Linked DNA regions of Homo sapiens: all the other regions are linked to region 3. Evidence: fine-mapped expression QTL. A gene starts in region 3. Each other region holds a variant in brackets. All regions are shown on one strand. Distances are from middle to middle. Region 1 has its middle 17 kb from the start of PARP10. Region 2 holds the start of MAFA (MAF bZIP transcription factor A). Region 3 holds the start of PLEC (plectin). Region 4 overlaps PLEC (plectin).

What was found. PIP is the estimated chance that this variant, and not a neighbour inherited with it, causes the effect.
Region 1: its variant is fine-mapped to the expression of PLEC in whole blood (TOPMed, PIP above 0.99).
Region 2: its variant is fine-mapped to the expression of PLEC in adrenal gland (GTEx, PIP above 0.99).
Region 4: its variant is fine-mapped to the expression of PLEC in cerebellar hemisphere (GTEx, PIP 0.91).

The regions. Positions count from the first base shown.
Region 1 is chr8:143,965,867-143,973,866 of GRCh38, reverse strand. It overlaps a transcript of PLEC not described here. Among named protein-coding and RNA genes, the nearest start is that of PARP10, 17 kb to the left of the region's middle. RefSeq lists silencers at 1-113, 124-583 and enhancers at 317-1,164, 1,165-2,014, 6,740-7,516, 7,517-8,000. The variant C/G (reference allele first, on the strand shown) is at 4,089.
Region 2 is chr8:143,430,460-143,438,459 of GRCh38, reverse strand. MAFA (MAF bZIP transcription factor A) reads left to right here and starts at 7,728. Exons shown (of 1, transcript NM_201589.4): 1 at 7,728-8,000. It overlaps ZC3H3 (zinc finger CCCH-type containing 3), which reads left to right. Exons shown (of 12, transcript NM_015117.3): 12 at 373-801. The coding sequence ends at 404. RefSeq lists enhancers at 1,124-1,907, 1,908-2,693 and silencers at 2,495-2,669, 7,372-7,811. The variant A/G (reference allele first, on the strand shown) is at 3,554.
Region 3 is chr8:143,935,810-143,943,809 of GRCh38, reverse strand. PLEC (plectin) reads left to right here and starts at 4,213. Exons shown (of 32, transcript NM_201384.3): 1 at 4,213-4,460; 2 at 5,118-5,179; 3 at 5,570-5,659; 4 at 6,568-6,645; 5 at 6,739-6,831; 6 at 7,796-7,962. The coding sequence starts at 4,349. RefSeq lists enhancers at 500-749, 3,295-3,589, 3,767-3,826, 4,237-4,476 and silencers at 970-1,429, 1,650-1,739, 3,987-4,216, 4,497-4,596.
Region 4 is chr8:143,911,806-143,919,805 of GRCh38, reverse strand. It overlaps PLEC (plectin), which reads left to right. Exons shown (of 32, transcript NM_201384.3): 32 at 1-4,653. The coding sequence ends at 3,629. Among named protein-coding and RNA genes, the nearest start is that of PLEC, 24 kb to the left of the region's middle. RefSeq lists a silencer at 3,499-3,694. The variant T/C (reference allele first, on the strand shown) is at 4,512.

The DNA of each region.
Region 1 (8,000 bases), 30 kb before region 3:
AAGCAAGGTGGGGGGCGGGCAGGGGAGCGTCTCGGAGGCAGGTCGCCGGCCCGGCGGGGAACAGACAGGTCGCGGCCGCCCCTGGGCGGGGGCCACCCGAGGACCCCCGGGCGACCGCGGTGTCGGCGGCCGCGACCCGGGCGAGAACGGGAAAGGGCGTGCGTGCGGGACTCGGAGCCCGCGGAACCGGCCCGCCGGGAGGGGCCCAGACGCGGCTCCCTCTGCCCGGCCGCGGCGGCCCCGGCCCCGCCCCGCCCGTGGGGCATCCTGGGTGCGGGGGCGGGGCGGGGGCGGGGCGGGGGCGGCCTCTTTAAGCGGCGCGCGCGGCCGCGGGGACAGAGTGGCCGCCGGGTGCTGGAGGCTCCGCTGCACCCCGCGCCCCGCGCCCGCCGGCATGGCCGGCCCGCTGCCCGACGAGCAGGACTTCATCCAGGCCTACGAGGAGGTGCGCGAGAAGTACAAAGGTACGGCCCCCCGTCCCGCTGCCTGTCGGGCCGCTCCTGACAGCCCAGCCGCCGAGCACCTTGTCGTCCACGGTGGCGGTCCCGATCGCCGGCCCGAGCGCGGCCACTCCGCCGGCCTCGTCCGCCTGGATCGCCCCCAACGGCTGCCAGTGCCTAGGGAAGGGGAGGACTCGCTCCGCTGAGCCCCCGAGGCCATGCCCTTAATAGGGCATCGCGCGGCTCGGGTGGGTGGGGTGGGCCGCGGGCGGGTGGGGGCGCTCAGGGCTTGTCGGGGTCGGCTGTCTGAGCCAGGATCCGGTGTCTGTGGCCAGCAGACACATGGGTCAAGGCTGAGCCATCCCCTGCCCCACCTCTGGGGCGCGTCTGCATGGAACAGGGGCAGCTCCGCCGCCTGGCAATGGGTCACATAGTTGCCGCCTCTCCTCACCTCCCTAAACTGGCGAGGGCCTGGGCTGCCACCCTTCCTTGGCAGGGCACCCCCCCCACACCCCTTCTCTGTTCACTAGGGGACAGCTGTGGGCTAGGGGTCAGGGTGGCCCCTCCTTCCTCTCTAGGGGAGCATCAGAGTGGCCTGCCCACCTGCTTGATGCCTCGGCAGACCCCCTTGCCCTAGTCCACGCCCACGGGGAGCCCCTGGACCCTCCCAGGTCCTGGTCCCACCGGCCATTCTTGCAGCCCAGCTGCCTGGCTCAGCCTGGGTCGCCCGGCTCCAGGCGGTTGTGGACACAGCATTGGCTGCCGGCCTGCAGAGGCTTAGGAGCAAGGGACTGAGCTGCTGGGGAGGGTCGCGGTGGGGGCCCCCAGGCAGAGCCGATCAGAGCAGACTCCAGCTCCACGTGGCTGGTTTTGCTGGCTCTGCCCCCAAGGGCAGCTCAGGGAGAGAGGTCCTGCTGGGGCCCCGTGGTGCCGCTCTCCACCACAACCTTGCCCAGCTGGGTAGGTTTCATGGTGCCCCGAACTCATCTCCTTCAGGCGTCCTCCAGCGACGGCTCTGGGGCAGGGTGGATGTACTGCTGTGGCTCTCTTTGACAGTGCTGTGCCCAGCCGCTTTGCCTGTGTGACTAGTTCATTCGGGCCAGGGGAGACACTCCTGCACCCTTGGGGAGGCCTGGAGCGGGCAGCCTGTTGCTCATGCTCTACATGGCCGGCCCTGCCTTAGAGGGAGCACCCGGAGGGGTGCTGGGGTATAGGGCAGGGAAGCAGCCGCCCACCTGGGCTCCAGCCCTCCTGGCAAGCCCCAGGACAGAGCTGTTTCTGAGCTGACCACTCTGTTCAAAGTGCGGGAACTGTGCAGGATCGTTTCCTCCTGGAGTTCTTCATCTGGTCAGGTTGCTGGGCTGCCTGGGGTGCCCCAGCCTGTTCTGGGCATTGTGCTGAGGCTTTCCTGGCCCCAGGGCTGTCTTTCCTCTACCTCCTGGGGTGGGAACTACTTCTGATTCATCCAGGGGTGAGCCAGACAGATCCCTGGAGGTTGCTGGGACCCTCTGTCAGGGTCCTCCCTCCCAAGCGCAGCTCCTCTGGAGGCCAGGATTGGTGTTGGGCACACTCGCAGTCTTGGCCCATTGTCTGCCTTCTGGGCTTGGTGGTGGAGGCTGGTGAGGGGGCAGGGGGGCCGGGGGGCTTGCCTGAAGTGGAGTTGTCACGTGATGGTGCAGCTGCCCGCATGTGTGTGGCACTGGCCTGAGAGTGGCTAAACAGCAAGGCAGGTGCTGAGGCTCCGTGAGCACACCAGGTACCCCAAGTCTCCTTAGCTCCTGGCTTGAGACAAGGGGACGGGAGGGGCTGGGCTGGTACCTGTGTCTGGGAGCCACGGACCAAGGCTGAGGAGGGCCTGCAGGAGGTCAGAGGTGGCCCCTGTGCCCTACACCTTTCCAGGCCTGACCTCTGTGAGCCCCTTGGACCTGCTAGAGGGCTGGAGCCCCGGCCCTTCCTGTCCCTGGGGTGGAGGGACTGTGGGAGGGCATGGCACCCCTTGCCAGCCAGCCAGTGACGGCAAGGCAGCCCCAAATCCCTCCATGGTAAGCAGCTGCGGGCCCCTGTCCTGGGCCCAGCTCAGCATTTGGTGGTTCTGAGGAGGGCAGGGAGGCCAGGCCTGTGCCCCCTGCCCAGCTGATCCCTGCACTGAGGAGGTGCTCTGGCTTAGGCCTCCTGGCCTCCTCCCCTCTGTGGCATTGCCTCGGTTCCACCTCACTGTGCCCTCTCACAGACAACTCCCTGTCTGACCCTCACTCCGGTGACCTTCACCCCCCACCCCACAACGTCTCAGACCCTCCCCTGGACACGTCATTCCCTGGCTCTCCCCTGGAAATCCCCGGTCTTCCCTGTACAGTCAGGCGGCCACTGCTCCGCTTGGAACATCGCCAACTTCCTGTCTGCCTGAGCCCCTCAGCCCCCCCATTCTCCCTGTCCCCCATCCAGGGCAGATTCCTCTGGGGCTGAGGCTACTGCAGCCTGTGGCGGGAGAGCTCTGGGCACCCTGTGGGAGAGGCCTCCGTGCTGAGGGCTGTGGGCTGGTGACTTAGACAGTCGGCCCAGCTGCCAAGAGGTGTCCAGTCGCCCAGCGCCCCAAGCCTGGCCTGTGACAGCTCATAGAGGCTGGGCCGTTCTGCCGCACCATGGGAGCCTGGAGAGAGACCTGGGGTGGGTGTGGCAGGGCGGGGACAGTTCTAGGAGAGAGTTGTGGCAATGCAGGTGAGTGGAGGTGAGGCGGCCAGTCCATAACTGAAAAGAGAGCGGTGTTGCCAGGGGCTGGGTGAGAAAATATCCTGGAATTGACAGCTACACAACTCCGAATCTACTGAAACCACTGAATTGGACGCTTTGAATGGGTGAATGGTGTGGCATGTGAATTACCTCTCAATAAAGCTATTAAAAAATACTAATAATCAGCATGAGGTCAACCTAATTGGTACTGACATGAAAAGCCAGTGGCTCCAGAGGAAATCTCAGTCTGAGCTCCCTGTAAAGGGGCGGCCAAATCCGTGTGCTCTCTCCCGCCCTCTCTCATGCACAGCGATCGCCCCAGCCGGGAGCCTGAACCCAGAGGTGTGACTCTCCCCGTTTTTCTTTGTATACTTCCACCCTGCTTGATTTTTTTTTTTTTTGGAGCGTTTTACTTTTGACAGTAAACACCGACCAAAATTCCTCTCCAGTGAGCCCCAAATAACCTCCAGCCTGCCCTCTGCCAGCTGAGCACCAACCACTGCAGATGACGCCCTACGCCATCACCCACTCACCCGTGCAAACACCCTGCAGTGCTGGCTGAGGGCCTGGGGCCAGTGCCAGGGACACAGATAACCAAGCTCAGAGTCCAGGACAGGGGAGAGTAGGGGACACATGAGGAGGGGGCCAGGCACAGTGGCACTGGGCAGGCCCAGGGCTGGCAAGGGGTCCTGAAGAGAGTGCAGGCCACAGGCTGGGCACACGCCCTGTGGAGACCCAACACACCCAGCCCCTCTCCAGGCCCGCTTTTCCCCCAGACCAATGCAGGCCTCCCACCCCTGGCCCCTGCCCCACACCAACGCCACCCACTCACCAACGGTACTCACCCCGGCCTCATTCTCACCCCTGCTGCCCTCTCCAGGACCACCTCACAGCACCCCTAAGCCCCACTCCCATCCCTAA[C/G]ATGACAACCTAAAGTCTCTATCCCCAGCTGCCCAGGCCCCCGGCTGGCCCCACTCCCCACTCCCCGGCCTGCACTCATGCCCTGACCCCCAGGACAGGCCCCTGCCCACAACGCTGGACTGCTGCTGGGCCGCTCTTTCTTTCTTCACTGACCGCCTCACCTCCACTCACCTGCATTGCCACAACTCTCTCCTAGAACTGTCCCCGCCCTGCCACACCCACCCCAGGTCTCTCTCCAGGCTCCCATGGTGTGGCAGGACGGCCCAGCCTCTATGAGCTGTCACAGGCCAGGCTTGGGGGGCTGGGCGACTGGACACCTCTTGGCAGCTGGGCCGACTGTCTAAGTCACCAGCCCACAGCCCTCAGCACGGAGGCCTCTCCCATAGGGTGCCCAGAGCTCTCCTGCCACAGGCTGCAGTAGCCTCAGCCCCAGAGGAATCTGCCCTGGATGGGGGACAGGGAGAATGGGGGGGCTGAGGGGCTCAGGCAGACAGGAATGGTTATGGATTGGCCTGTACTGGCCCTGGGTCTGGCCTCTTCGACTTGCCGGGACGCTGTCAGGGCTGCTCACATCGCCGCGCCATCAGCACCTCACCCTCCCCCCGCTGGAGTCGGTTCCGTGGTGTGGAAGTGCCCACTTTTGCTTATGCGTTTATCAGTTGACGGATAGTGGGTTGTTTCCACCTTTTGGCTGTTATGAGTGAGGCTGCTATGGACGTTTGCATACACGTTTTTGTGTGGTCGTATGTTTTTTATTTCTGCTGGGTAGATACCTAGGAGTGGAATTGCTCAGCTGTGTGGTAATTCTATATTTAACCATTTTGAAGAACTGCCAGATTGCTTCCTAAAGCGGGCGTGCCATTCTGCATGCCCAGTAACAGCCGGGTGCGAGGTTTCCAATTTCCTCACATCCTCACCAACACTTGTTATTATCTGACTCTTTGATTGCAGACATCCAATCCTAGTGGGTGTCGAGTGGAATCTCATTGTGGTTTGATTTGCATTTCCTGATGGCTAATGACGTTGAACACTTTGGTGTGATTGTTGGCCATTTTTTATATCTTTTGAGAAATGTGTATTTCAATCCTTTGTCCATTTTAGAATTTACCTTTTGGTATTTTTGAGTTGTAAGTGTTCTTTATATATTCTAGATGCCAGTCCTTTATCAGAAATATGATTTGCAAACATTTTCTGTTTCTGTGGTCTGCCTTTTTATTTGCTTGCTGGTGTCTTTTTTTTTTTTTTTTTTGAGATGGAGTTTTGCTCTGTCACCCAGGCTGGAGCAGGTTCAAGTGACTCTTGTACCTCAGGCTCCCGAGTAGCTGGGACTACAGGCGTCTGCCACCACACCTGGCTAATTTTTGTATTTTTAGTAGAGATGGGGCTTCGCCATATTGGCCAGGCTGGTCTCAAACTCCTGGCCTCAGCCTCCACAGTGCTGGGATTACAGCGTGAGCCACCTCACCTGGCCGGTGGTGTCCTTTGAAGCACGTACATTTTAATTTTAATTATTATGACTCCAGTTTATCTATCTTTTTCCTTGGTTGCTTGTGCTTTTGGTGCCATATTTAAGAAGCCATTGTCTAATCCAAGTCATGAAGCTTTACACCAATGTTTTCTTTTCTTCCTTTTTTTTTTTTTGAGACGAAGTCTCGCTCTGTCTCGCTCTGTCACCCAGGCTGGAGTGCAGTGGCATGATCTCAGCTCATTGCAACCTCTGCCTCCTGGGTTCAAGCAATTCTCCTGCCTCTGTCCGCCGAGTAGCTGGGATTACATGTGTGCGCCACCACACCTGGCTAATTTTTGTATTTTTAGTAGAGATAGGGTTTCCCCATGTTGGCCAGGCTGGTCTTGAACTCCTGACCTCAAGTAAGCCACCTGCCTCAGCCTCAGTGCTGGGGTTACAGGTGTGAGCCACCGCGCCTGGCCTGAATTCTTTGATTATTAATTAAGCTGAGCACATCTCCTAGAGTTGTTGACTATTTGCACCTTTTCTTTTGTGAACTGCCTATTCACAAGCATTGTTGGCCAGGCTGGTCTTAAACTCCTGTGCTCACATGGAAATGGAATCAAGGGATCCTCCTGCCTTGGCCTCCCAAAGTACTGGGATTACAGGTGTGAGCTGCTGCCATGCCTGGCTACTACACCTTTTTACATCAGGGACTTGAGCATCTGTGGATTCTGGTATCCATGGGGAGTCCAGAACCCATCTCCCGCTGATACCGAGGGACACTTGTATTCGGCGTAAACTTCGAAGTTGCCTGTGGGCAGCACCAGCTCACGGAACAGAACTTTTCAGCTCCTGGAAAGTTCCTGCTGAGTCCCCACTGGGCACACCATGGATGGGTCTCACACCACGCATCTATTTTTGTTTAATTCTGTCTGTTTCTTTTTTTTTTTTTTTTTTTTTTTTTTTGAGATGGAGTCTCGCTCTGTTGCCCAGGCTGGAATGCAGTGGCGCGATCTCGGCTCACTGCAACCTCCGCCTCCCGGGTTCAAGCCATTCTCCTGCCTCAGGCTCCCGAGTAGCTGGGACTACAGGCGCCCGCCACCATGCCCAGCTAATTTTTTGTATTTTTAGTAGAGACGGGGTTTCACCGTGTTAGCCAGGACAGTCTCGATCTCCTGACCTCGTGATCTGCCCACCTCGGCCTCCCAAAGTGCTGGGATTACAGGCGTGAGCCACCGCGCCTGGCCTAATTCTGTCTGTGGTTTCTTTAGCCATATCAATTTTTAACACTCACCAGTCTTTTATGATTTCTGGATTTTATGCTATGCTTAAAATGGCCTTCTTTTAGAAAAACATCTGCTGAGAGTTGCTTCCAGCACTGCTGCATTTTTTTAAACATCTCTGTCGTTAATCTTTGTGGAATTTGCTTGGGGCTGAGGTCGAGATGTTCAAGGAGGCTCGATGTCATGCTTGGTGTCACGCTCATAGGGTCTGGCCGTGGGCTTGTGGGTTACAGGGATGATTGTAAACATCTCCCCTTCCACCAATCCGGCTTCCTGACGCAGGGGCTGTGTATTGCTTCACTTCTGTGCCCCCGAGCCGAGCCCTGCCCTGTCCTGTGGCAGAATCCAGCTTCCTGACGCGGGGACTATGTGTTGCTTCACTTTTGTACCCCCCCAGCCGAGCCCCGCCCTGTCCTGTGGCAGGTGTGGCTTGAAACAAGCGTTGGGTGGGAGGGATAGGTGGACTTGGAGCTGGCTGGACCCCTGCAAGATCCTGGCCTGGTGCCTCCCAAGGAGCGGCTGAGGAGTCCCCCGTGGTGGCTGTGGAGGTAGAGAGCAGCCTGGGGTGGAGAGGATGTGCCTGCGGCAGAGAGGGCGGAAGAGCCAGCGCTTAGCCTTGGGTGCATAAAATCAGAGATGCCTGTGAGATAGGTATGCGTGTGCAGACACTGAGGTGCAGGAAATGCTGGGCTGAGGTGGGGAGGCCAGGCTGGGAGGCCATCACTAGGGCAGGCCTCGGGCCAGAGCTCTGAGCCTGGGGTCCTCCAGAGCTTAGGTGCCTATGAGAAGAGGCAGCCGGGAAGCAGAGCAGTGGGCAGCTGTGCAGCCATGGGGGCCTGTTGGGTCTGCGAAGGAGGAAGGGGCGTGAGGAAGCAGGGCCACGTTGGGAGCAGGGTGAGGCCTGGATGGTGCTGGGACCAGGTGATGAGGGGTGTTGGGACCTCAGCGGGACTGCTTGGGGTGTCGTCGGATTGGAGGTGCCAGGGGGCATGTGGGAAGTGCTCAGGAGGCCCTGCTGGTGCCAGGCTATGGTGGGTCCAGCAGGGTGGCAGGGAGGGAGAACCCTCTCCAGGACAGAGCGGTGACATGGAGGCTAGGCCGCAGCAGGTCACAGCCTCAGCTGGATGCTGGCCCGAGTTCCCTGGGGAAGGAGTTCCCTGGGCCTTGGCCTGAGGGACC
Region 2 (8,000 bases), 510 kb after region 3:
AGGGCAGTCTGGTGCTGTGTGCACCAGTACTGATGGCCCACCCTGCAGACCTTGTGGCCGGGACTGCCGCCCGCCCAGGAGGACCCCTGGACTGTAGGCAGAAGCCTCAGTTGACCTCATAGACTGAGCCTGCACCATGGCTAGACAGCCACAGAGGCTCACCAGGACCTGTTGGCAGCAGGGGGCAGAAGCTGAAGCCTGTGGCCTGTCTGTGCTCTTCTCCCTCGAACTCAGGAGGGTATCTCTGCAGACCTTGCTGTGTGTGCTTGGGCTGACAGAGCCCCCCGATCCTGAGCCCGATCAGGAGCTTTGCAGGCTGGGGAGGTTCTTCCAGGGGTTTCCGGGCACCTAACTTTTGCCCTCTTTGCATAGGGAAGCCTCTGCACATCAAACCACGTCTGTGAGGACCCCAGGGACCGGCCTGCACCTACCTCAGACCCTCATCCTTGGAGAGGAAAGAGGCTCTGTCCACCACTCTACCCCACAGGAGGGCCGCCCGCCACCAAGCCTCACCTGGGGGCCACAGGGACACTGCTCTGCCTGCCTGGCCCTCAACCTTCCATGACCAGCGTGTGCGCAGGGCCTGGTCTTCCTCCCCCAAGCCAGGCCCCTGTCCCCACCCCACCACCTTCCAGGGTGCCAGGCAGGGCTGGCCTCCAGGCCTGTCCCCGACTGCCATTGGCAACAGTGGCCCTGCAGCCCCCAGCCCTCCCCACCCAGGTTTTCGGCCCAGTGAAGAGGCCACTGGCCAGGCCTCCCAGGCAGGTGTTTTATGTTCAGCAATAAAGGTTCTATCCGTAACTGGTTGGCTTGTCCTGACTGTTGCCATGCCACCGCCAGGCGGAAAGCACCGCCCCTCTGGGCAGGAGTATGGGGCCCCTTTCCTACCTCCCACGATGGTTCAGAAGTCAGAAGGCGCTTCTCCCTGGACCTGAGCAGCACCATCTGGGGTGGGGAAGGCCTAGGGGGCACTCTGGGGACCCGGATGCAACAGGCTAGAGCCATGGTGGGTGGGGCAGCTCGGCCAGCTCCCGGTTCCCCTGCCCTGCACGGGTGCCCGTGCTGGAGGGGCCTGACCAGGAGGCCTGGCTGAGGTTGTGCCACAGACCCTGGATTGGGAGAGGCAAGGCCTGGAGGGGCAAGGCTCCTCTCCTCACCTCCAAAGAAATGGGGGGTGGCCCCTGGGCGAGGCAGGCCAGCAACACCTTCAGGGGCCCCACGGCACAGCCTGGAGTCAGATGCACGAGCCTTGTGCCCTCTGCCTGCCTGGGCTCTGGGTGGGTGGCACTGCCACTGCCCACCCCACACCCCGCGGGGCCCCTTGGCCTGGTCCACACTCGGGCGGGGAGAATGCTCCGCCCCCTTGAGGTCGCGGCCTCCACCCTGAAGTGGGGTGTCCTGACGTTGGCATCAGAGGGGACGAGGCGTGAGGCTCGTGCGACGGTTCCACCAGAGCGAGTGCTGGGTGACACGGCAGCAGTTTCCGGTTCTCTCCACAGTGCTCGTCGCTGTGGCCTCTACCCTGGGGCCCTGGGACCCAGCCTGTGGCCTTGGCCCTGCTGGGATTCCAGCCGGATCGGGTGGGATGGCGGATTCTGGAAGCCAGAGCTGTGGGTGGGGTGTGCCCAGCTGGCTTCTGTCCCCTCCAACACTGGCTCAGCTCACCCAGACCCAAGTGTTCACAGGGGCTTGTGTCCTTGTTCGGGACCCCAGATTTGAGGGTGGGCACCGGCTGGGCATGAGGCGGCCAGATCCTCTAACTTCACTTTGTGCCACCGGGAAGCGTCTGCCGCAGGCCCGGTGCGCAGCTGGACCCACCCATGGGTGCCACTTCCTTTGGCCACCCTGCGGCTGGCACATAGCCCCTGAAACGTGAAACGTCCGTGGGGGCTGGGGAATAGGCTCCCCATCCACCCAGCGCCTGTCTGGGACCGTGAGCGCTGCCATCTGACACACGGCACAGCCACTCGGAGGCCCAGGGCACTGCTCTTGGGCAAGGGGGTGTGATGGCAGTTCAGGGCCAGGTCCACTGTCCCCAAATGCAGCCCCCCCCAGGAGTGGCCAGCAGGAAGACTCAGAAAAGGCTGGCCACTGCCTTCAGGGGGCCACCATGGTGTCCCAATCCCCCACCTGGGGACCTTGTGCAGCCTGGGCTCTGCTTGGTCTCAAGTCCTTGCGTTTCCCCTGCATGGAGTGTGCCCATTTGGTCACACGAGGCCCCTCATGCCAAGGGGCAGCTGGCAGCAGACCAGTGACTGCCAGGGCACCTGGCCAAGGGACCTGGGAGGCTGGGACTAGCAGAGTCCCTGCCCCTGTATTGACCATGGCCCCAGCTGAGGACAGCCTGGTGGAATGTCCCCTGCTGGGGTGGTCGGAACAGGGAAGGAGAAGGCTTCCTGAGGAGAGGAGGGCGTAACCCTGCACCCAAGCCTGTGCGTGCAGCAGAGTGGTGTGTGCTGGGGCAGCCGGATGGAAACCCTGAAGCGGAAGCACACAGCACCCTGGGGGGTCCTCAGAGCCCTGGCGGGGCACGGCCGGGTCCCAGGCAGGTGATGCACCCCCCCAGCGCCAAGCAGATGGGTCTTAGCGCTGTTGTCTCTTATAAGGGAGATGTGATGGCCGCAGAGGTGGGAGCCGTGGGCAGAGTCCAGGGCCACTGCGGGAGGTGGATGGGCGAGCAGGGGTGCAGCAGTGACTTCAGAGTGTGGTTCTGTGCCCTGTGTGCCTGGAGGGGTGCCGGCTGGGCAGTCGGATGCTGGCCTGGATGCCCCTGGGGGCTGGGAGGTGACCGAAGGGAGAGTGTCTGGGGGTCCGCCGGGAGCGCCAGCACCTTCCTGGGCTAGGCCTGTGCCCATCCTGCCTCTGGGCTGAGGGCGTTGACCCCGCCTCACTTAGCGCCCAGCAGCACGGGAGCTCCGGGAGGGCAGGGAGCTTGGGCGTGCAGTGGCTGAGCGAGTGCCCTGACTGGCGCCTGGCATACAGCAGGCGCACCATCCGTGCTTGAGTAGGGGCACAAGGAAGGGGCGGAGCAGCGACAGGCTGAGGAGGGACTCTCAGGAGGCCCTGGGCAGAGCAGCGACAGGCTGAGGAGGGACTCTCAGGAGGCCCTGGGCTTGTTTTTTGGTTGTCGTTTTTAAATGCAAATGAGCCCCTGAGTGGAGGAGGGGCGCCCGGGCAGCAGGAGCAGGGTGGGGGTGGAGGCAGCCCCAGCAGCCCCCTAGCCCAGAAGATGCAGAGCCTCTGTCTGCGGGACGGAGAAGGTTCTGTCTCCTGTGATCAGCTCCGCACAGCAAACGCGGGCACTGGGGGTGTGGGGGTTCTCCCACCTAAATACATGCCCCAAAAATGACACTCCAGACCCCACGCGAGGCTCTACGCAGTTCCGAGCACTTACTCTTGGGGCAGCAGGGTGAGGTTCAGGAGGTCCACGCATGGCCTGGCAGGGTTAGCTCAGCCCTCCTGCGCAGCTGTGCTCTGGCAGGGGTGGAGGAGCCGTGCCAGGAGGGTCCCCTCAGGCCCCTCCCTGCAGTAAAATGCATGAGCTCAGGGCCCC[A/G]GCAGACAGCAGACTGCGTGGGGTCCCATGGTGGACAGCAGAGGGAGCTGTGGGGTTCAGCTGGTGAGCACCCCAACCTCCCTGTCCCTCCTCGTACCAGGTTTCCCTCCACCCAGAGCCCTCTGGGGGCCCACGATGACTTCCTGGGCCCTACACCAGCCCCCATGGGCTCTGATCTTGACCCAGCCACCCTGGGCCCTTCCAGGCCCCTCCCAGGCAGTGGCTCTGGGCTCCCTGCTCCCCGGCCTGAAGGGCTTGCCCCTCCATCTGCTCAGGTGTCTGTGAGGCCCCCCAACCCCACCAACCCAGAACTCCCCACCTAGCCAAGCTTCCGCCTTCTCACAAACGAGTGTGGGGGACAGGCCCTGAGGTAGCCTCATGACGCACCCCCCTGCCCAGCGTTCCCACCCTTGGGTGACCCCTTTCCTCCGACAGACTCCTGGAGGGTGGCCAGATGCCGCAGCTGTGATCACGGCACCTTACGCCCCGCTGAGAGCCTCTCCCTGCTGGCCCGAGGCGTCAGGGCCTGTGCTGGGGCTGCACCTGGTGAGGAGCTCAGGGTGGCCTCCAGCCTCCAGCCAGCAAGAAGCCGGTCCTCAGTTGTACAGATTTAAGGAAATAATTCTGCCAACAGCCTGACGATGCCTGGTGGCACAGCCCTTCTCGTCCCACGTTGAAACTGTAGCCCGGCCACCTCCTAGACTGCACCCTGGACGGGGGCTCCTGCTAAGCCCTGCCTGGACACCTGGCTCACAGAAGCCACAAGACCATAAATGTGTGTTAAGTTACTAAACGTGTGGTAATTGGTGAGACAGCAATAGAAGGCAAATCCACTATCATTTTACTCATTATTATTATTTGAGACAGAATCACTCTGTTGGCCAGGCTGAAGTGCACTGGCGTGATCTCGGCTCACTGCAACCTCCGCCTCCCGGGTTCAAGCGATTCTCCTGCCTCAGCCTCCCAAGTAGCTGGGACCACAGGTGTGCACCACCACGCCCGGCTAATTTTTGTATTTTTTAAGTAGAGACGGGCTCTTGCCAGGTTGGCCAGGCTGGTCTCAAAATCCTGACCTTGTGATCTGCCCACCTCGGCCTCCCAAAGTGCTGGGATTACAGGCATGAGCCACTGTGTCCGGCCTCATTTTACTTACTATTTTTATGGCTGATTTTCTGTTCTCTGAGGCCCACTCGGCAGACTGTATTTTCCAAAAACACTACAACAGTGCATCTCAGCCCACAGGCCCCTTCCTCACATGACCTACACAGGCAGTGTCCGTACCCCTGCCCAGGGGGGTGGCCGACCTCTACACACGAGGACCACCAGCATGGTGCAGTGTTCTGAGGCACATGCACCCCTCCACCTTCCTCGGATGCACACACTGGGAACCAGCAGCCATGCTGTGAGGAAGCCCAACCAGCTGCAGGGAGCAGCCCTGTGGAGGTGTCACAAGCAGCTGTTTTGGCCGACAGCTCTCACCATCTGCCAGGCCTGGGTGTGAAGACCCTGCCCAGTGGCACCATCCATCAGCTGTCCCGTTACCCCAACCCCCAAGTCCTCCCAGCTGTCAGGACCAGAGGCAAGCTGTGCCCCTATTCCCAGGACACATCTCCCCCTTACAGAGCCCATGGATGAAATAATACTTGTGCCATCAAGCTCCAGGGGGCTTCTCAACAAGGGACCCTGGCCACCTCCCTGATGGGATGTGCCCCCTAGGCAGGCTGGCTGACGTACTCTAGGTGCTCAAGAGAAGCCTGTTGGGTGCATTGAGTTACCCAGCCACACAGACTGCCCCTGCAGAATTCTGTGAGGACCAAATGCTGAAAGTTTGGAGGGTGTGAGAAGCCCTTGGGTTGGGAGGCTGGCGGGAAGGGAAAGCGCTTCTGGGAGCCCAGGGAACAGCGGAGCACAGGCGAATTCTAGGGAGCCATCCTGGCTTGGTGGTGACAGCACCAAGCCTCAAGGAGGGCTTGGCAGGCTTGGGGCGGATGGGTTGGGGTCAATCTTTGAGGCCACCCCAGCCTCCACCACCTTCTCCCACCTCTCAGAGCAAGATGAGGCACTTAGGCTTCCTGTGGGTGGTGGCGGGATGGGGGTGCCACTGAGTCCAAGCATGGCTGTGGGGTCAGCGTCCCTCAGCCTGAGGTCACAGCTGTGGCCCCGGGGAAGGTTCCCACTGCAACAGCCTGGGGTCAGGCGTCTCCTTCATTCCCACGGGTGTGCTGGAGTCCTCCTGGGCTGGTGACCAAACACCCTCTCCTGGTCTCCTTGGCCTGGCAGGAGCCACAGTGCGATGGGCGGGAGGGGGGGACAGTGGGGACACAGCCCGGTGCAAACACTCTCTCTTTCCTCCTCAACCCCCTTTCCAGTGTGCCCCAGGGCCTCCAGGGTGTGGTACCCAGAAATGCTGCTAGACCCTTGGAGGGGCCGTGGGAGGGCCCTGTAGCCCCAAGGCCTCTCCTGGGGCTGCAGGTGCAGACAACCTGGACTACCACCAGCTCCACTGCGCGGCGGCATCCTCCCTTCCCGGGCCTCCCTCTCAACACGGGGTGCCATAAAGGAAACCCCACACCCCTGGCTGGCTGACCACTCGTGTGGTCTCAAGTCCAGGTACCCAGTGTGGGGACTTGGCTCTGCTGCATGCCCACTTCATTTCTTCATCTGTAGAAGGGTGGGGAGCTCAGAGCCCCCTCTGGGACAGGATCGGGGGAGAGGGGTCCCTGCAGGTGGGTCCTCATGCTGTCCTTGGCCCTCCCTTGCGGGGAGGAAGGCCTGGTCTTCCCAAATCAGCAGTCCCAGCTCTGCCCAGAGGAGTGGGAGGGCCCAGGGAAGGGCCAGGGACACCCCGAGACACCTTAGGAAGCAGATGTTCAGTCCTCACTTCATGACAGTCTTCTTGTTACAAAACAATAGATCTTTGTAGAGGGAAGGAGGTGAGAGCCTGGTACTAAATCTGCGGCGCCGTGACCAGGCCTCCCTGTGGCCTCTGCGCAACTCCTTCCAGGCTTTTTTTCTCTACACAGGTGGTTACATTTTAGACTTTTTTTTTTTTTTTTTAAATTGCTGAAGTCATAGAACAGCAATGGAGAGAATTTCGAGAAGAAACAATAGGCCCACTTCGGGTCACCGGCCTTGTAACTCCTGGCGCAACCCTCCCATCACCCGGCTCGCTGGTGTCGGGGACCTGGGGTCACAGGCCCACCGCCCATCGTCACCTCCTTTGCCCCGTGAACCGGAGCCGTCTCCTCCCAGCAGGTGCACGGCCGCCAGGTGGAAATCCCCGCCTTCCCGTCTCAGTTACCCCCCGTCCCACTCCAGGCCCAGCAAGGCGCCTCCAGCCCTGCGGGGGGCGAAAGTGGGCAGTGGTGGCCGCTTGGGCGGGGATTCCTAACGCCCTGAGGGGCTGCCAGCCCGTGGGCCCCGCCCCCGCCGCTCGCACCCACCCGCGTTGTCCCGCGACCCCCACAGTCCTGCGCTCTCCGCGGCCCCCCACAAGCCGGCCCTCCGTCCCCGGCCCCTCGCGCCGCCCCGCACGCGTGTGTCCCCCTCCGCCCGCCCCGTGCTTCCCGGTGCCCGGAGGTGCCGGCAACTTTGTTGACCAAATTCCTGAACGCGTCTGAGCCGCGGGCTAAAAATAACCGGCTCAGCGCGCCGCGCTCTGCCGGGCCGCGCGGTGTCACCCGTGTCCAGAGGCCCGGAGGTCCCGCTGCCGCCGCCGCCGCCGCTAGCGGAGCTGCCCCCGGCCCCCAGGCCCGGCCGCAAACCCAGGGGGCCGAGGGGGCGTCCCGCCGCGTGGCCCGAGGCGGACGAGGCCCCGAGGGGGTCCCCGGGCGCGGTCCCCGTCTGCTTCCCCGGACTCTCCGGCCGCCGGGTGTGGGAGCTGAGGCCCCTGGAGACGGCAGTTGTCCCCTGAGGCGGCGCGCCCTCTGCCCGTGCAGTGCCCCGTGATGGCCACCAGAGGGCCCTGCCCTCTCCTCTAGCCGGCGGCCCGTCCCTACCTCTTCCCACAGCTGTTTCCCGCAGGAGATTGACAGCTGGGCTCTGAGTTGCCATGGGGATAAGCAAATGAGGGCGGCGGGGCTGGGGCTCCGATTGGCCCGGGGGCGCGCGCCCCTCCCGGGGAGGCGGGCCCAGGCACCCGGCTCTATAAAGGGGCGCGCGCGGCTTCGCGTTTAGCCGTGGGAGGCGGGGCCGGCCGGCGGCGCGGGTGGGGCGCGGGAGCGGTCCCGGAGCAGCCCGAGGCGGCGGCCGCGGGGAGGAGGCGGCGACGCGGGCCCGGGGTCGCCCGAGACACCTGGCCAGCGGTGCCCCTAGCGCGCCGCCCCGGAGTTGACCACGTGAAACTTTTCCCTGCGCCCCTCGGCGCCGCCGCCCCGCGCCGGCGCCCCCCCGCCCCCGCCGGGACCGCCGCCCGCGGGGAGCAGGGGGGGGAGAGGCCTGCAGCTCC
Region 3 (8,000 bases):
AGGGGACGTCGGTGGGCGCAGGACGAGCAAGGTAAGCCCCGCTGGTGGCTGCCAGGGACTCGAGGCGGGGCAGAGGGGCCGCCTGCCTCCCGCCCCTTCATTCCCTGCGCCCTCCCCTTCCTGTTTCCAAGCTGAATGTCAGTGAAAGCAGTGTTGCCCCTCCACCCCACCCTGCAGTGTAGACCCTGACCCTGCTGCAGTCCCAGGGCGGGGCGGGCTCTGCAGTGGCCCTCAGCCTGCAGCCTGTGCGGGACAGGTGGGTGGAAGCGGAGGCCGGCAGGGCAGGAGCGTCCCCCACACGAAGGGAGGCCTGTGGCAGCCGCCGTGGCAGGGACAAGTGGGCAGGTGCCTGTCCGGCCAGCACTGAGGTGGAGGTGGCTCCCTGCACACACAGCAGGGGGTGGAGCCACACGCAGGTGAGGCAGGTGCCCTCATGCCCTCGGGCCGCACAGGGGGCGGGGGCAGCCAGGCTGTGCCCTGCCCTCCCTGCTCAAAGTCACCAGCTCCTGGGCTGTGGTCCCAGGTGGCAACCGTGCCCAGCACAGGATGGGGCGGGGCCCTGGGGATTGGGCAGCCTCAATTATGGGCTTCTGGCCAGAGGGACTGCCTATCGGGGACCTGGCTGGCCAGACCTCTCCTGCAGTGAGGGCGCTGCCTGGCTCAGCTCCTCTGCTGGATCCCCGGACTTGAGATGAGTCAAGATGGGGCTTCTAGGCGTGGCGCTGGGGACGCCCGGAGCTGCCGGGGACTCAGCTGCCAGGATGGGACTTGGGCTGAGGGCTTCTTCCCCATCCATGTTTTTGGCTGGGGACCAGACACTGTCCCTGCCTCCCCACCTCAGCCCACAATTGCCCCCTTCGGCCACGGTCCTGGCTCACAGGATGCCTCTACTCCCTGGTGGTGCCAGACGCGGCTCAGCTCCTCGGTTCTGCCTCCAGCGTTGTCTGCCCACCACCTGGCCCCATGCCCTGCCTTCCTCCCTGGGCCCTGCAGTCCCCACCGCACATCCTGCTGGGAGGCCCCCTCCCATGCCGCTTCAGTCCCAGGGCAGCCTCCCAGCCCGGCCCGTGGGTTGGGGCGCGGCTTCCTGGCTGCGCTGGGCGGGGCTGCGCGCCAGGGGCAGGTTCTTTGGGTCTGGGCCTCGCTCCCGCAGTGGGCGGATTGTGGGGGGGAGGTGGAAGAGGTGGAGAGCGAAGCCGGCAGCCTCGCAGCGTGGGCTGGAAGCAGAGGCGCCGCCGCGGTCCAGCTCCCCGCACTGTCCGTGGGCCGAACCAGGGCTCCGGCCGTGGCCGGCATGTCGGGGGCGGGGGGCGCCTTTGCCTCGCCGAGGGAGGTCTTGCTGGAGCGGCCGTGCTGGCTGGACGGGGGCTGCGAGCCGGCCCGCAGGGGCTACCTCTACCAGCAGCTGTGCTGCGTAGGTGGGTGCAGTGGCGTGGCCGGTGGCACAGAAGGGGCCACCATCGCTCTCACCTAGTGGGGCTGGGTCTCTGCTGGGAACCGCCGCCTGGGCTGGGATGGGGGTGGCGCCTTGGCCCGGTGCAGCCTTGCCCCCGAGCTCCGGAAACACCTGGGGAGGAAGGCGGGGTGATGTTCCCCTACCCCCATTTGTTTGTCTCTAGAGAAGGGGCTGGAGGGGGCGGGGCTGGAGGGGGCGGGGCTGGCCCACCCCCGGCTGTTCCACGTCAGCCTGGGCTTTGGCCTGGGTTTCCAGGACACGGGGGAGGGAGGAGGTGCTGAAGGCGGGGCTCCAGGCCTTCTGTGGACTTGCTGCAGTCCTGGGCCAGTGGGATTCCCTTCCCAGTCTTGGGGTTTCCATCCTAGGACCGTCTCCACTAGCTGCGGGACCTCAGCCATAGGGTCCACACCTGTAAAACGGGGGCGATACTCCTCAGAGGGCCACGGCAGTGCCTGTCGTGAGGGACCCTGGGCTGGCGGCCGAGGGTCAGCAGCCCTGGACAGCACAGGTGTCAGGCAGGTGTGCAGAGGCACCTGAGCTGGGGGTGTTCTGGGTGCGTCCCAGGTGGGAGAGCCAGCTGAGCTGCAGCTGTAGAGGGTGGGTGTAGCCTGGCTGGGTGGGGCGGGTGTGTCTGTTGGTTTTAGGGTCAGAATAGGATTGGATGGGGCGGGGCAGGCTGGGCTGGGAGGGAGGGGAGGTGATGAGGAGGGAAGAGCTCAGAGCAAAGAGGCACCCAGAGGCAGGAAGTAGGGAAGGGGAGCTTGAGCCAGGCTTGGGAGGTGGAGGCCCCTGACCGAGCCCCCAGCCCACCTGGTCCCAGCCCTGCCCCGCCCCAGCCCTTCTCCTCACCCGGTCCCAGCCTTGCCCGAGTCCGTGTCTGGAGTCCCCACCGTGCCCCTTCCCTTCCCTGAGCCCCTGCCCCATTCCTGACCCTGGCCCGGCCCAGGGCGGCATCTTTGGAGGCCTGTTAGTGGCAGGGAGAAGGCTGGAACAGGGGCCTGGCTGGGGTGGGCTCCACGTGGGTCCTGGACCTTGGCCCCGGCTCCCAGTTTCCAGCTGTCGTGGACTCCCTGTGCCCACCTCCCTGGCTGTTCCGGGATCTCACACTGTGCCTCAGCAGAGTGGCAGCCCCGTTCCTGCAGGCAGGAGCCACCTGGTCACGGCCGGGCCCCCAGAGCCCATACCCAGCAGGCGCGGGGCTTGGCCTCAGGGTAGCTGCTGGCCCAGGGCTTCTGAAGAGGCGACAGTGTTTCCAGAGGCTTTGGACCCAGGGAGGGGCGGCAGAGGTGTGGGGTCCGGGGTGCCCTTGGGCACAAGACTGGAGGTGCTGACCAGTGCGGGGTCAGATTTTGATTTGGGGGCTTCTGGTGACTCCTGAGGTTCTGGAGGCTGCTGGGCCGGACAGGCAGAGCAAGAGGGTCACCCTGAATCTCATGCCAGGCTCAGAGACCATGCATGGAGACCAAGGGGTGTCTTCGTTGGGCGGCGTGTACGATGTGGCAGAGCCCTAGGGGCTGGCTGTGCCCCTTGGCGTGGAGTGGGGGCTTCCCCACCTCTGAGGGGTTTGGGCACCCCCCATTGTGAGGGTTCTGGTGCCCCCTCACGGCCTCAGGGGCAGTAGGAATGAGGTGGGGTGAGCTCTTCCCAGAACTGAGGCCGAGTGCAGCTCCCAGCTGGACCGAATCTGCCTGATGTGCGGCTGGAACATTCTTGTGGTTGGGGCAGCGCATTCTTTCCTATGGTGGTCGGGTGGGCTGGGCAGGCCCAGAAGCTGGCCAGAGGCAGCTCCGCCCCGGACCCCAGGGAGCCGGAGGCCCCAGCCAGCGCAGGCCCTTTGCCCTTTGCCCTTTACAGCATGAGACTGCTTCCCTTGAGCCCCACCCAGCTGCAAACAGCACCCCCCACCCCTGGGGTCGCCCAGGTCCTGCCTCAGGTGTGGCTTCCCCTCTGTGAGTCACAGGCTTGGGCCCCCTCCCCATCCCTGACTCACTGGCGAGGCCCCTCCTGGGGCTTCCCGATGCTCCATTCCCCCATGAGGCCCGGCCTCCGTGAGTCAGCCCTCAGCTACGCGCCTCCGACGTGAGGTGTCTGCCTGGGGCAGGGTGGGCTCCGCAGGTGGGCACTGCTCCAGGATGTGCCAGGTGGGCAGCTTGGGAGGGGCCAGGCCTGGGGTGGGACCCCACTGGCCCCAGGGCCAGGGCAGGCACCATGGGGCAGGGTGTGCTCCCCGCTTCATGCAGGTCTGTGAAGAGGTGTGATTGGGGGGCTGCAAGAGCTGACAGGCAGCAGGTCCCCTCCCCTCGCCAGGTATCAGCGGCTTCTTGAGTCCGCCCTGGCAGGGTGGGTGGGCAGAGGCTGAAGCAGGGCCTGGCCCAGGCCTGGAGGGAGCTCCAAAGAGAGGCGTGGCCTCAGAGCCCCTCCCGTCGGGGGAGCCCTTCAGTCTGTTGGGGGGTCCTTCTGGGTGGCTGTGGGGACGGCCTGTGTTCCTCTGCGGTCCTGGCACCATTTGGTGTGCAGTGAAGTGCCAGCTCCCCGTGTCCCCAGGTCCCCCTAGGGGGCTGCAGTGGTCGGGGTGGGTGAGGAAACCCCGGTTTCCTGTTTCTGGCGGGCCGAGGGCGTGTCTGTGGGGGAGGGGGCTGCTTGCTCCTTCCCGCCGGGACACTCCCCTCCCTGGCGGCGGCCTGGGCAGGGTGGGGCCTCGGGGGCGGGCCGGCCTCGCCGGGGAGTACAGCAGGCAGGGAGTGGCCGCACCGACTGGGGCTCTGAGCTGAGCCTGTGCCGAGTGAGCGTCTCGTGGGGCCGCCAGCCTTCAGCTGCCTGTGTGCCACACGGGGCTGCCCAGAGCACCGTGCCTGAGGCCGAGGGTCCGGGCGACGAAGGTGTGGGGGCAGCATGTCTCAGCACCAGCTCCGCGTGCCGCAGCCCGAGGGCCTGGGCCGAAAGAGAACCAGCTCGGAGGACAACCTGTACCTGGCTGTGCTCAGGGCCTCTGAGGGCAAGAAAGGTAGCAGGGCTCCCCTCGGGCACCCCCGCCAGGCAGGGCGGGCCCCTGCGGGAGGAAGGCCCACTTCCTGTGGCAGGAAAGCCTTGGCACCGCTGGGGGGCTGGTCTTGGAGATGGGGGTCGGGGGCCAGCCATCCCCACCCAACACGGAGTGGGCCGACAGGCGCCCGCGAGGCTGACGGGGGCCTCCGAGCGTCAGATGTCGGGCCTGGAAGGGCGAGGAACTCTGCGCTCTGGGGAAGGTTCGCTGCCCTGTCAGCAGCACACGCGGCTTCCCTTCCAACACCCCAGCGGGCCCGGGCCCTGGCTCTGCCACACCCCTGCTTGGGTCTCAGTCTGTAGAGGCCGGGGGGGACTGCAGGACGGGACTTGTGTGCCCTGGGCTCAGGGTGCGCCCAGGACCCTCCCATTTCCTCGGGGGAAGAGTCCGGGGTGGGGTGGCTGCACCTGGTGGCGCCTGGGCCCCTGGCACCTGGGTCTCTGCTGTGTGGCTGGGCTGCGGGTGAGGGCGCCTGGGTCTCAGTGTGTGATCTGAGGGAGGCTTTGGGGCTCCCCAGGCAGGACCTGGCCAGCCAGGCTGCTGTGTCTGCACGGTGGTCACCTGAGGGCCCCCGGGGCTTCTCCCAGGCCCCAGGTAAGCTGGTCTTGTCTCCCCCAGATGAGCGGGATCGTGTGCAGAAGAAAACCTTCACCAAGTGGGTCAACAAGCACCTCATCAAGGTTGGTGGCGCATGCTGGTGCGTGTCACAGGGGCTGAGGCTGTGGGAGGCGCTGAGGGAGGGTGGCCCCTGCCGCCCAAGGCTGTCCCCATGCTGCCTGTGTGCTCACCTTTCATCTCTGAAACCTGTTATTTTCTGTCCTCTTTCTTCCCTACGCCTGCTCCTGCCTCTCTCTTCCTCCTCTTCCTTCTGGTCTTTCCTGGTCTCTCCTTGCAGCACTGGCGGGCAGAGGTAGGTGCCTCCGTGGGGCAGGGTGTGTTCCGTGGGCTCCCGGGAGACTCAGCCCCCGCCTCCTTCCCTCTGGGACCAGCACCCACTCTGTAGATCAGCCACTCAGGGCCTATTGGTGGCTCTGGGGGACTGGCCACCTCAGCCGCTGCTGTCCCCACAGGCCCAGAGGCACATCAGTGACCTGTATGAAGACCTCCGCGATGGCCACAACCTCATCTCCCTGCTGGAGGTCCTCTCGGGGGACAGCCTGGTACGTGTGCCCCTGCCCCCTCCGGGCCCCGCCTGCCCCACCTGGAGACCTCTGCCTGCCTTCCCTCCTTGGGGCCTCTCCGGCCGCCCACTCTACTTGGAATCCAGCTCAACCCCTCCTGCCTTCTCCCTGGGGGCAGGCTGGCCTCGTCCCTGGCAGCACCTCCCGCCCAGGCTGCTGGGCATCACAGCCGAGGGCCTGGCCTGGGAGTGGCCGCAACCCTCGGACCTCGGCTGCTCTGGGCCTTGCCGCCCTCCGCGTCGGGACACAGTAACCTCATGCTCCGCTTTGCTTTGGTTTCTCTGCTGCTTGGACTCTGAACCTTGACCTCTGCCCTTTACCCTTTGCCCTGCTCTGGCCGGGCAGCCGAGGGAGCGGGACGTAAGCAGGAGCTCACGCCTGGTGAGTGGCTGTGCCTGCCGGCTGCAGCGGCACGGGAGCTCCCCAAGACCGTGGAGCCCGGCTTTCTGGGGGCTGGTGGCCCGTCGGCCAACCCCTGCCTGGCTCTTGGGCGGGTAGGTGGTTGGGTGTCAAGCTGCCCGTCCACCGTGCTGCCCAGAGCTGGCCTGGGACCCACCGGTGGCTGCTGTGGCTGCCACCGCCAGGCAGGAGGACCCCCCCTTTAGTGCCACTGCCCTCCACACGAGGCTTCCTGGCTATTGTCTCCTCCCACCCCTTCCTTCCTTCCCTCAGCCTGGGTCGCTGGACTTCCCGAGCCCTGATGGGCCTGGCCTGGCCCCTGGGCCGGTGGCCTCCCTTTCCCTGCGGGGGAGGGTGAACCTGGGATGAGGGGCTGCTGCCCCCTGGGGAAGACCCTTGGCTCGGTTGCTGCGGCGCTTTGGGGCATGCTGAGGGTGGGGCCCGGGAGCTGCAGCTGCACTGTGGGTGCTGACTGTGCCTCCCCACAGCCCCGGGAGAAGGGGAGGATGCGTTTCCACAAGCTGCAGAATGTCCAGATTGCCCTGGACTACCTCCGGCACCGCCAGGTAAGGCTGCCCGGCAGGCCCTGGGCCCCACCCAGACCCCTCACCAAGCCAGCCCCGCCCTGTGGGCCGTGACCGAGAGCCCCTCGCTCACAGGTGAAGCTGGTGAACATCAGGAATGATGACATCGCTGACGGCAACCCCAAGCTGACCCTTGGCCTCATCTGGACAATCATTCTGCACTTCCAGGTAGAACGGCTGCCCCCAGGACCCCCACCCCCTGCAGGAGTTTCCAGGGTAGCCTGGGCTCCTTGGCTGGCGGGTTGATCCGCTTTCTGGCTAGGGCGTGGCCTGGGAGGTGACTGGCGCCGTAGGTATGGTGGCACCTGGGTGCCTTCCTGCCAGCCGCAACCCTGGACTGGATCTGTGGCCTGAGGGTACAGGCCTCTCTCTGAGGCCACCTATCCGTGCCCTCTGGCCCTGGCTGGGCAGGGCCCAGAGCCTCCCTGTGGAGGAATGCAGGCCCCGGTGCCTGCCCTGGGGAGGCTTCTGCGCAGCACAGGCTGACTCACCCGCTGCTTGTCCTGGCTGCACAGGAAACCACAAATCTGAGAGCTGAGCAGGCAGAGCCTGGTGCTGGCACGGCAGCTGAGTCACACAGGCTGGCAGGACGACAGGCAGCTAGGGGTGGGTGGGCAGAACCTGGCCTGAGCATGCCACTGAGTGTAAAGCCAGGCTGCCAGAGGCCCCACCTGCCAGCCTGCAACCATCGATGGAGCTCGACCCCCAGCCTTTTCCAGGCCTGGGGGTTCTGGGCCAGGTTTAGTGGTACACTTGTGGGTTCCTCTTATGCCCACTGCCCTTCCACTCTGCTCCATCCCAGCTCCGGGAGGTGCAGGGTGCAGCCTAGCCCTCCCCAGCTAGGGGAGTGGGCACCTGCTGTGTGGTGGCAGTGAGGGTTGGGGGTTCTGAGCTGCGTGGTGGCAGCTGCCACCGGCTGGAGTGGCTGGACTTGTGGCCCCGAGGCATGGCCAGTCCCAGCAGCTTCCCAACAGGGAAGGGCCCTGGAGCCCGGTGCTGCCCTGGCTGGTTTGGTGGCCCCATGCACTCCCCCTGGGTGCTGAGCTACCCCTGCCCCTGTGCATGTGGCTGTGGGCACAGAGCAGGCCTGGTGGCTGTGGCTGAGCTGTGGCCTCCTCTCTGCTGTGAGCAGATCTCAGATATCCAGGTGAGTGGGCAGTCGGAGGACATGACGGCCAAGGAGAAGCTGCTGCTGTGGTCGCAGCGAATGGTGGAGGGGTACCAGGGCCTGCGATGCGACAACTTCACCTCCAGCTGGAGAGACGGCCGCCTCTTCAATGCCATCATCCACCGGCACAAGTACATGGCCCCGGGGGCAGGGGGCTGTGGGCTGGGGG
Region 4 (8,000 bases), 24 kb after region 3:
AGGACCTTTCGGAGCTGGGCTCCGTGCGGACGCTGCTGCAGGGCAGTGGCTGCCTCGCCGGCATCTACCTGGAGGACACCAAGGAGAAGGTGTCCATCTACGAGGCCATGCGCCGGGGCCTGCTGAGAGCCACAACGGCTGCGCTCCTGCTGGAGGCGCAGGCGGCCACTGGCTTCCTGGTGGACCCCGTGCGGAACCAGCGCCTGTATGTCCACGAGGCCGTGAAGGCGGGCGTGGTGGGCCCCGAGCTTCACGAGCAGCTGCTGTCTGCCGAGAAGGCCGTCACCGGCTACAGAGACCCCTACTCGGGCAGCACCATCTCCCTCTTCCAGGCCATGCAGAAGGGCCTGGTTCTCCGGCAGCACGGCATCCGCCTGCTGGAGGCCCAGATCGCCACGGGCGGCATCATCGACCCCGTGCACAGCCACCGCGTGCCTGTGGACGTGGCCTACCAGCGCGGCTACTTCAGTGAGGAGATGAACCGCGTCCTGGCGGACCCCAGCGACGACACCAAGGGCTTCTTTGACCCCAACACGCATGAGAACCTCACGTACAGGCAGCTGCTGGAGCGGTGCGTGGAGGACCCCGAGACGGGCTTGCGCCTTCTGCCACTGAAAGGGGCGGAGAAGGCTGAGGTGGTGGAGACCACGCAGGTGTACACTGAGGAGGAGACAAGAAGGGCATTTGAAGAGACACAGATCGACATTCCCGGCGGCGGCAGCCACGGCGGCTCCACCATGTCCCTGTGGGAGGTGATGCAGTCGGACCTGATCCCCGAGGAGCAGCGGGCCCAGCTGATGGCTGACTTCCAGGCCGGCCGGGTGACCAAGGAACGCATGATCATCATCATCATCGAGATCATTGAGAAGACAGAGATCATCCGCCAGCAGGGTCTGGCCTCCTACGACTACGTGCGCCGCCGCCTCACGGCTGAGGACCTGTTCGAGGCTCGGATCATCTCTCTCGAGACCTACAACCTGCTCCGGGAGGGCACCAGGAGCCTCCGTGAGGCTCTCGAGGCGGAGTCCGCCTGGTGCTACCTCTATGGCACGGGCTCCGTGGCTGGTGTCTACCTGCCCGGTTCCAGGCAGACACTGAGCATCTACCAGGCTCTCAAGAAAGGGCTGCTGAGTGCCGAGGTGGCCCGCCTGCTGCTGGAGGCACAGGCAGCCACAGGCTTCCTGCTGGACCCGGTGAAGGGGGAGCGGCTGACTGTGGATGAGGCTGTGCGGAAGGGCCTCGTGGGGCCCGAGCTGCACGACCGCCTGCTCTCGGCTGAGCGGGCGGTCACCGGCTACCGTGACCCCTACACCGAGCAGACCATCTCGCTCTTCCAGGCCATGAAGAAGGAGCTGATCCCTACTGAGGAGGCCCTGCGGCTGCTGGATGCCCAGCTGGCCACCGGCGGCATCGTGGACCCCCGCCTGGGCTTCCACCTTCCCCTGGAGGTGGCTTACCAGCGTGGCTACCTCAACAAGGACACGCACGACCAGCTGTCAGAGCCCAGCGAGGTGCGCAGCTACGTGGACCCGTCCACCGACGAGCGCCTCAGCTACACGCAGCTGCTCAGGCGGTGCCGTCGTGACGACGGCACCGGCCAGCTGCTCCTGCCACTGTCGGACGCCCGCAAGCTGACCTTCCGTGGCCTGCGGAAGCAGATCACCATGGAGGAGCTGGTGCGCTCGCAGGTCATGGACGAGGCCACGGCGCTGCAGCTGCGGGAGGGCCTGACCTCCATCGAGGAGGTCACCAAGAACTTGCAGAAGTTCCTGGAAGGCACCAGCTGCATCGCTGGTGTCTTCGTGGACGCCACCAAGGAACGGCTCTCGGTGTACCAGGCCATGAAGAAGGGCATCATCCGCCCCGGCACAGCCTTTGAGCTCCTGGAGGCGCAGGCGGCCACCGGTTACGTCATCGACCCCATCAAGGGACTGAAGCTGACGGTGGAGGAGGCTGTGCGTATGGGCATTGTGGGCCCCGAGTTCAAGGACAAGCTGCTGTCGGCCGAGCGCGCCGTCACTGGGTACAAGGACCCCTACTCTGGGAAGCTCATCTCCCTCTTCCAGGCCATGAAGAAGGGCCTGATCCTGAAGGACCATGGCATCCGCCTGCTGGAGGCCCAGATCGCCACGGGCGGCATCATCGACCCTGAGGAGAGCCACCGGCTGCCCGTGGAGGTGGCCTACAAGCGCGGCCTCTTCGATGAGGAGATGAACGAGATCCTGACCGACCCCTCGGACGACACCAAGGGCTTCTTTGACCCTAACACGGAGGAGAACCTCACCTACCTGCAGCTGATGGAGCGTTGTATCACTGACCCCCAGACGGGCCTGTGTCTCTTGCCGCTGAAGGAGAAGAAGCGGGAGCGGAAGACGTCCTCCAAGTCCTCCGTGCGCAAGCGCCGAGTGGTCATCGTGGACCCCGAGACGGGCAAGGAGATGTCAGTGTACGAGGCCTACCGCAAGGGCCTGATTGACCACCAGACGTACCTGGAGCTGTCCGAGCAGGAGTGCGAGTGGGAGGAGATCACCATCTCCTCCTCGGACGGCGTGGTCAAGTCCATGATCATCGACCGCCGCTCCGGGCGCCAGTACGACATCGATGATGCCATCGCCAAGAACCTCATCGACCGCTCGGCACTGGACCAGTACCGCGCCGGCACGCTCTCCATCACCGAGTTCGCCGACATGCTCTCGGGCAACGCCGGTGGTTTCCGCTCCCGTTCCTCCTCGGTGGGATCCTCCTCCTCCTACCCCATCAGCCCCGCCGTCTCCAGGACCCAGCTGGCCTCCTGGTCAGACCCCACTGAGGAGACGGGCCCCGTGGCTGGCATCCTGGACACGGAGACGCTGGAGAAGGTGTCCATCACCGAGGCCATGCACCGGAACCTGGTGGATAACATCACGGGGCAGCGGCTGCTGGAGGCGCAGGCCTGCACCGGGGGCATCATCGACCCCAGCACCGGTGAGCGCTTCCCTGTCACCGACGCCGTCAACAAGGGCCTGGTGGACAAGATCATGGTGGACCGCATCAACCTGGCCCAGAAGGCCTTCTGCGGCTTCGAGGACCCACGCACCAAGACCAAGATGTCGGCCGCCCAGGCCCTGAAGAAGGGCTGGCTCTACTACGAGGCCGGCCAGCGCTTCCTGGAGGTGCAGTACCTGACCGGCGGCTTGATCGAGCCCGACACGCCGGGCCGCGTGCCCCTGGACGAGGCCCTGCAGCGCGGCACGGTGGACGCCCGCACCGCACAGAAGCTGCGTGACGTGGGCGCCTACTCCAAGTACCTCACCTGCCCTAAGACCAAGCTCAAGATCTCCTATAAGGACGCGCTGGACCGCAGCATGGTGGAGGAGGGCACGGGGCTGCGGCTGCTGGAGGCTGCCGCGCAGTCCACCAAGGGCTACTACAGCCCCTACAGCGTCAGCGGCTCCGGCTCTACCGCTGGCTCCCGCACCGGCTCGCGCACCGGCTCCCGGGCCGGCTCCCGCCGCGGCAGCTTTGACGCCACCGGCTCCGGCTTCTCCATGACCTTCTCTTCATCCTCCTACTCCTCCTCGGGCTACGGCCGCCGCTACGCCTCGGGGTCCTCGGCCTCCCTGGGGGGCCCTGAGTCTGCCGTGGCCTGAGGCTGCCTGCGCCCACCCCGCTCTGCATGCGGCCCAGCCCGGCTCCCACCGAGGCGCGGGGGCCGTTTTCAACGCTTAAAGGTGTCTTCCTCCCAAGTGGTGCCTAAAGTTTAACCAAAAAGACCAGACTAATATATTAATATATATCTGCTGTCCAGACAGCCTGTATCTTGGGGGACAGGGCTGGCCCAGCCCTGCTGGCCGCCTCACCCCCTCGGGTCTCCTCACTCCCTTCTACCTGCCACTCACACAGCCAGGTGCCTTGGAGGGTCCCAAGCTGGGCCCCAGCCCACCCTCCTGTCTTCCCAGGGTAGCCCGCCTGCCAGTCCTAGCTGCACAGGGCAGCTGGGCCCAACCCTGTCTGTAGAGGGCCCTGGTGTTTCTAGCACTGGCCTGCACGGTGGGCCTTGCTGGGGACGGGGGGCCCCAGTCAGCCTCTCTCCCAGTCTACCCAGAGAAGCCCCTTCCCCATGGGAAGACGAGGCCCTCGGGCCCAGCCCCCACAGTGCTGTCTGATCTGTGCTTTCCAGCTCACCCCCCACACTCACTCCTGAGACCCCTGGCCTCCGGCGTCAGCCTCCAGCCTCTGTTCCCCTAGTAAGTGCCTTCCATGTCGGCCTCTAACCCCAGGCCCCGAGGACCCAGACCCAGTGGGGAGGCGGACGTTCCAGCCGGCATGGCTGGGAACTGCAGACCTGTCCTCCTGGTGGGTCCAGGGGCCCCTCCAGCTTGTGGAGCCCCACACTGGGGTGCCGCCTGCCCGTCTCTCTCCCATGGAGCCCCAGCCCCCTTTGGGCCCAGGGACACCAGCCAGGCTCTGTGCTGACCCTCCTGTTGCACCCAGCCCTGGTCTCAGCAGCGACCACCCCTGCCTCCACCCTC[T/C]GAGCTTTGCATGTTCCACTAACCCCGGGCGGGTGGCAGGTGGAGGTGTCAGGCTGCTGGCGCCTCTGCAAGGGCAGAACACTAACCTGACCGTGGGCGGGGCCTTGCGGTATCCGCCCCCAATAAAAGCAATTCCAACCTTCCCGTGCCTCCGGCCTTGTGTCTTGGGGTCAGGTGTGTGTCAGGGACAGGGTGGACATTGCAGCCCCAGGCTCCAGGCTCTGAGCTCAGCCACTATGGCCAGTCAGGGACGTACGTCTGTGTGCAGCAGAGACCAGGTGCTCGCAGGAGGGCAGCTGAGAGACCCTGGGCAGAGGGATTCAGTGTGGGGCAGGGTGGTGGCCACACTGAGGCCGGGCCCCCTGGGACCTGCTGCTGGTCAGGTGCTGACCAGTCTCCCAGCCCCACCCTTCGCACTATAAGGGGCTCACGTTTCCTTATCTGAGGCGGGGTGTGGTATGCTCCCATATCAGTCACTGGCTGTGGCCCCTTGGCCTCCGGGGAGGGTGCCACATGGCCCCGGGTCAGTTGGTTGCTGCTGGCCGGGCAGCCCTCCAGAGAAGGGGCCACAGGCAGTGGGCCTAGTATGAGGGCCTCCACCACAGTCTGCCATGTCTCGGCCCCATGCCCATCACACTCCGGGGATTCCATCTGGATGGGCTTCTCCAGGCTTCCGACTGGTGGCAGTTTCTGGGAAGACTTAGGGGAGGAGGGAAGCGGGGCCACCCCAGCCTGCAGTAGCCACTGGTCCAGGCTCAGCCGATACTCTTTTTTTTTTTTTTTTTTTTTTCAGGCAGAGTCTTGCTTTGTCACCCAGGCTGGAGTGCAGTGTCATGATCTCGGCTCACTGCAGTCTCCACCTCCCATGTTCAAATGATTCTACTGCCTCAGCCTCCCGAGTAGCTGGGACTACAGGTGTGCACCCAGCTAATTTTCATATTTTTAGTAGAGATGGGGTTTCACCGTGTTGGCCAGGCCGGTCTCGAACTCCTGGCCTCAAGTGATCCTCCCTGCCTTGGCCTCCCAAAGTTCTGGGATTACAGGCGTGAGCCACTGTGCCTGGCCTTCGCCTCTCCTGCTGGTGGGACCCAGGCGTTCACCCTGGGGTCCAAGTCCTAGTCTTCTCGCTCTTGCTGGGCTTTACCCTCCCTGCCCCGGCCCGGTAGAGGGTGCTCTGCCTGCTGGTCCGCTGGAACAGGAGTGGCCCCGGCCGGGTGACCCACAGCCATCGAGCGGGGCAGTGCCTTACTCTGTCCCAGGTGGCTGGGTTTTAGGACCTCTGAGCCCTCACAGCTTAAGAGTTGCAGGGAAAGGAAGCACAGGTTGTCAGTGGGTCACTGGGAGCTGGTGAGTGGGCGGCCACTCCTGCCTCTACCCCTTGGTCCCCAGACCCATGCGGTCCTCTGTGGGGCCACTGATTTAGGCCGAAGACCACATCCTGGAGGACGGGACCACCACAGTCCCAGAGGGTTGGTGTCAGGACGGTGGCACCAACTCTTTCCGAGAAGCTCGCCGACGCTCTAGGCTCTGCGGCGCCCGTGTTCCCGCTCCCTCTGCACCCCCTTGCCGGAAGCAGTCAGAGGCCCTGGGGGCCGTTACACAGGAGCCCGTCTCCCAGGGCAGACACGGAGGCATCGTGGGCTGGAAAGGTGGGTCCGTGCCTGGAATACCAGCTGTTGTCTTTCCAAGGGGAAGGGGCCTCCAGGGCTGAGTTTACCTCCAAGTGACCGGTTGGTCTCTGGCTGGTTTTGCGTCCAGGGCCCCTGGTGGTCTTTATGGCCAGAGGACGGGATGTGCTGCTGCCGACAGGAGCTGGGCTTGTCATGGGGCGCCTGGCTTCGTCTGGTCCTCCATCGCTCCAGGCGGGAGCCGTGTGGGAGCACCGGACGCTGCGTCACTGGCCGCGTCATTGGCTTGTGGGTGGCTGGGTGCCCGCTCGGCAGCCGGTGCCCCTGGTGAACACCCACAAGTCCCCACGCTGGTGTCCACCCGGCAGTTCCATTCCCCAGTCCGTCTTCCAGCGTTGCCCTTCTCAGGCCCTGACCGGCCAGCCGAGCCCTTCCCCAGCCCTGTCCACGTGTGTCCTTACCATGAGCTGCTCTCCTCTCCTCATGAGAGGCCAGGGATCGCCCCGACCCCTGACTCCAGGGCCAGCCCAAGTGGAGTGGTCCGACTACCATGAACCCAACCGCCATGAAGCAGGCCGGGCTTGGCCCCCACCCAGTCACAGGGACCCTCTGAGGCTGTGGCCTGACTGGCGGGCAAGCTGGAAGCTGCGCCACCTGCCCGTGCAGCCCTCTGGCTCTCATGGCTGGTGCCCGGCAGTGCACCGCCCCTTACCCTGGATCCTCACTGTGCCGCTGACCTTAGCCTGGGTGGGTCTTGTGGCACTGGCTCCTGGTGGGAGCTGTGGCCACACCATCCCCAGGAACTTCTCTGAACAGTCCGCAGTTCTCTGTTGCAGTCGGGACCTCCTTGCTTCAAAACTTAGGGCTGGTGCTGCAGCTCTTTTGGGCCTTGCCGGAGACCCCTTGACGCATCCTTCCCCACCTGCGGCAGGTGCTCCTGGTACAAGAGCTCTGTTAGCTCACAGGGCCTGAGTGGCAGGACTTTGTTCCACAGCCTCACCAGCTGTGCTACCCTTCCTTTTCCTGGGCCCCACTCAAAACGAGAAGCCTCTGTGCCAACTGATAAAAAGATCTGTGTGTGGTATCGTGCCGGGTCTGGTATCGTGCTGGGGCTGGCATCATCCTGCCGTGTCTGGTATCGTGCCGGGCCTGGTATCGTGCTGGGTCTGGTATCGTGCCGTGCCTGGCATCGTGCTGGGTCTGGCATCATCCTGCCGTGTCTGGTATCGTGCCGTGTCTGGCATCATCGTGCTGTGTCCAGAACCCAGAGGCCTGCCATCTGCCAGCTTCTTTCCTGGTGTTAGGAAATGCAAGGCTCAAAACTCGTTCTTGACCTTGGACAGGACGTCCTAACATGCCCAGATCTCTGGACTCCTAAAACCTTCATGACGTGACCAGTCCCTGAATCTTGGCTCAGCCTCTCTCCTGCCCTGGAGTGCCTGTGTCCTAGCAGGACGCTCAGAACGCCTGCCACTTCCCGCTTGCCAGGCCTGGTGGGTGCGATGCTGTCAGTGAGCGGACTTGCGTGTTTGCGCTTTGGTCAGTTGTCTGTGTGTCTGCATGTCTGTGCGCTGCTGTCCACCTCGTGTGAATGGGAACTGCCCCTGACCTCCTCCCGGTGCAGTGGAGAGCCCTCTGCCCAGCCAGGAGCCACAGGACACCGTCTGAGGCTGTGAGTCTGCTCCAGGAAAGACCACAGACAGCACAGCAGCTGGAGTTGGCACTGTGGGGAGACGCTGTGGCTCAGCCGCCGTCCACCACAGTCTACCCAGCTCTTGTAGGGACCTGACCAGCAAATTAAGTGGGAAGATGGTGGCCATCACCCATGCACCCTTTAGGCATCTGCGGTGTTGCTGACGCC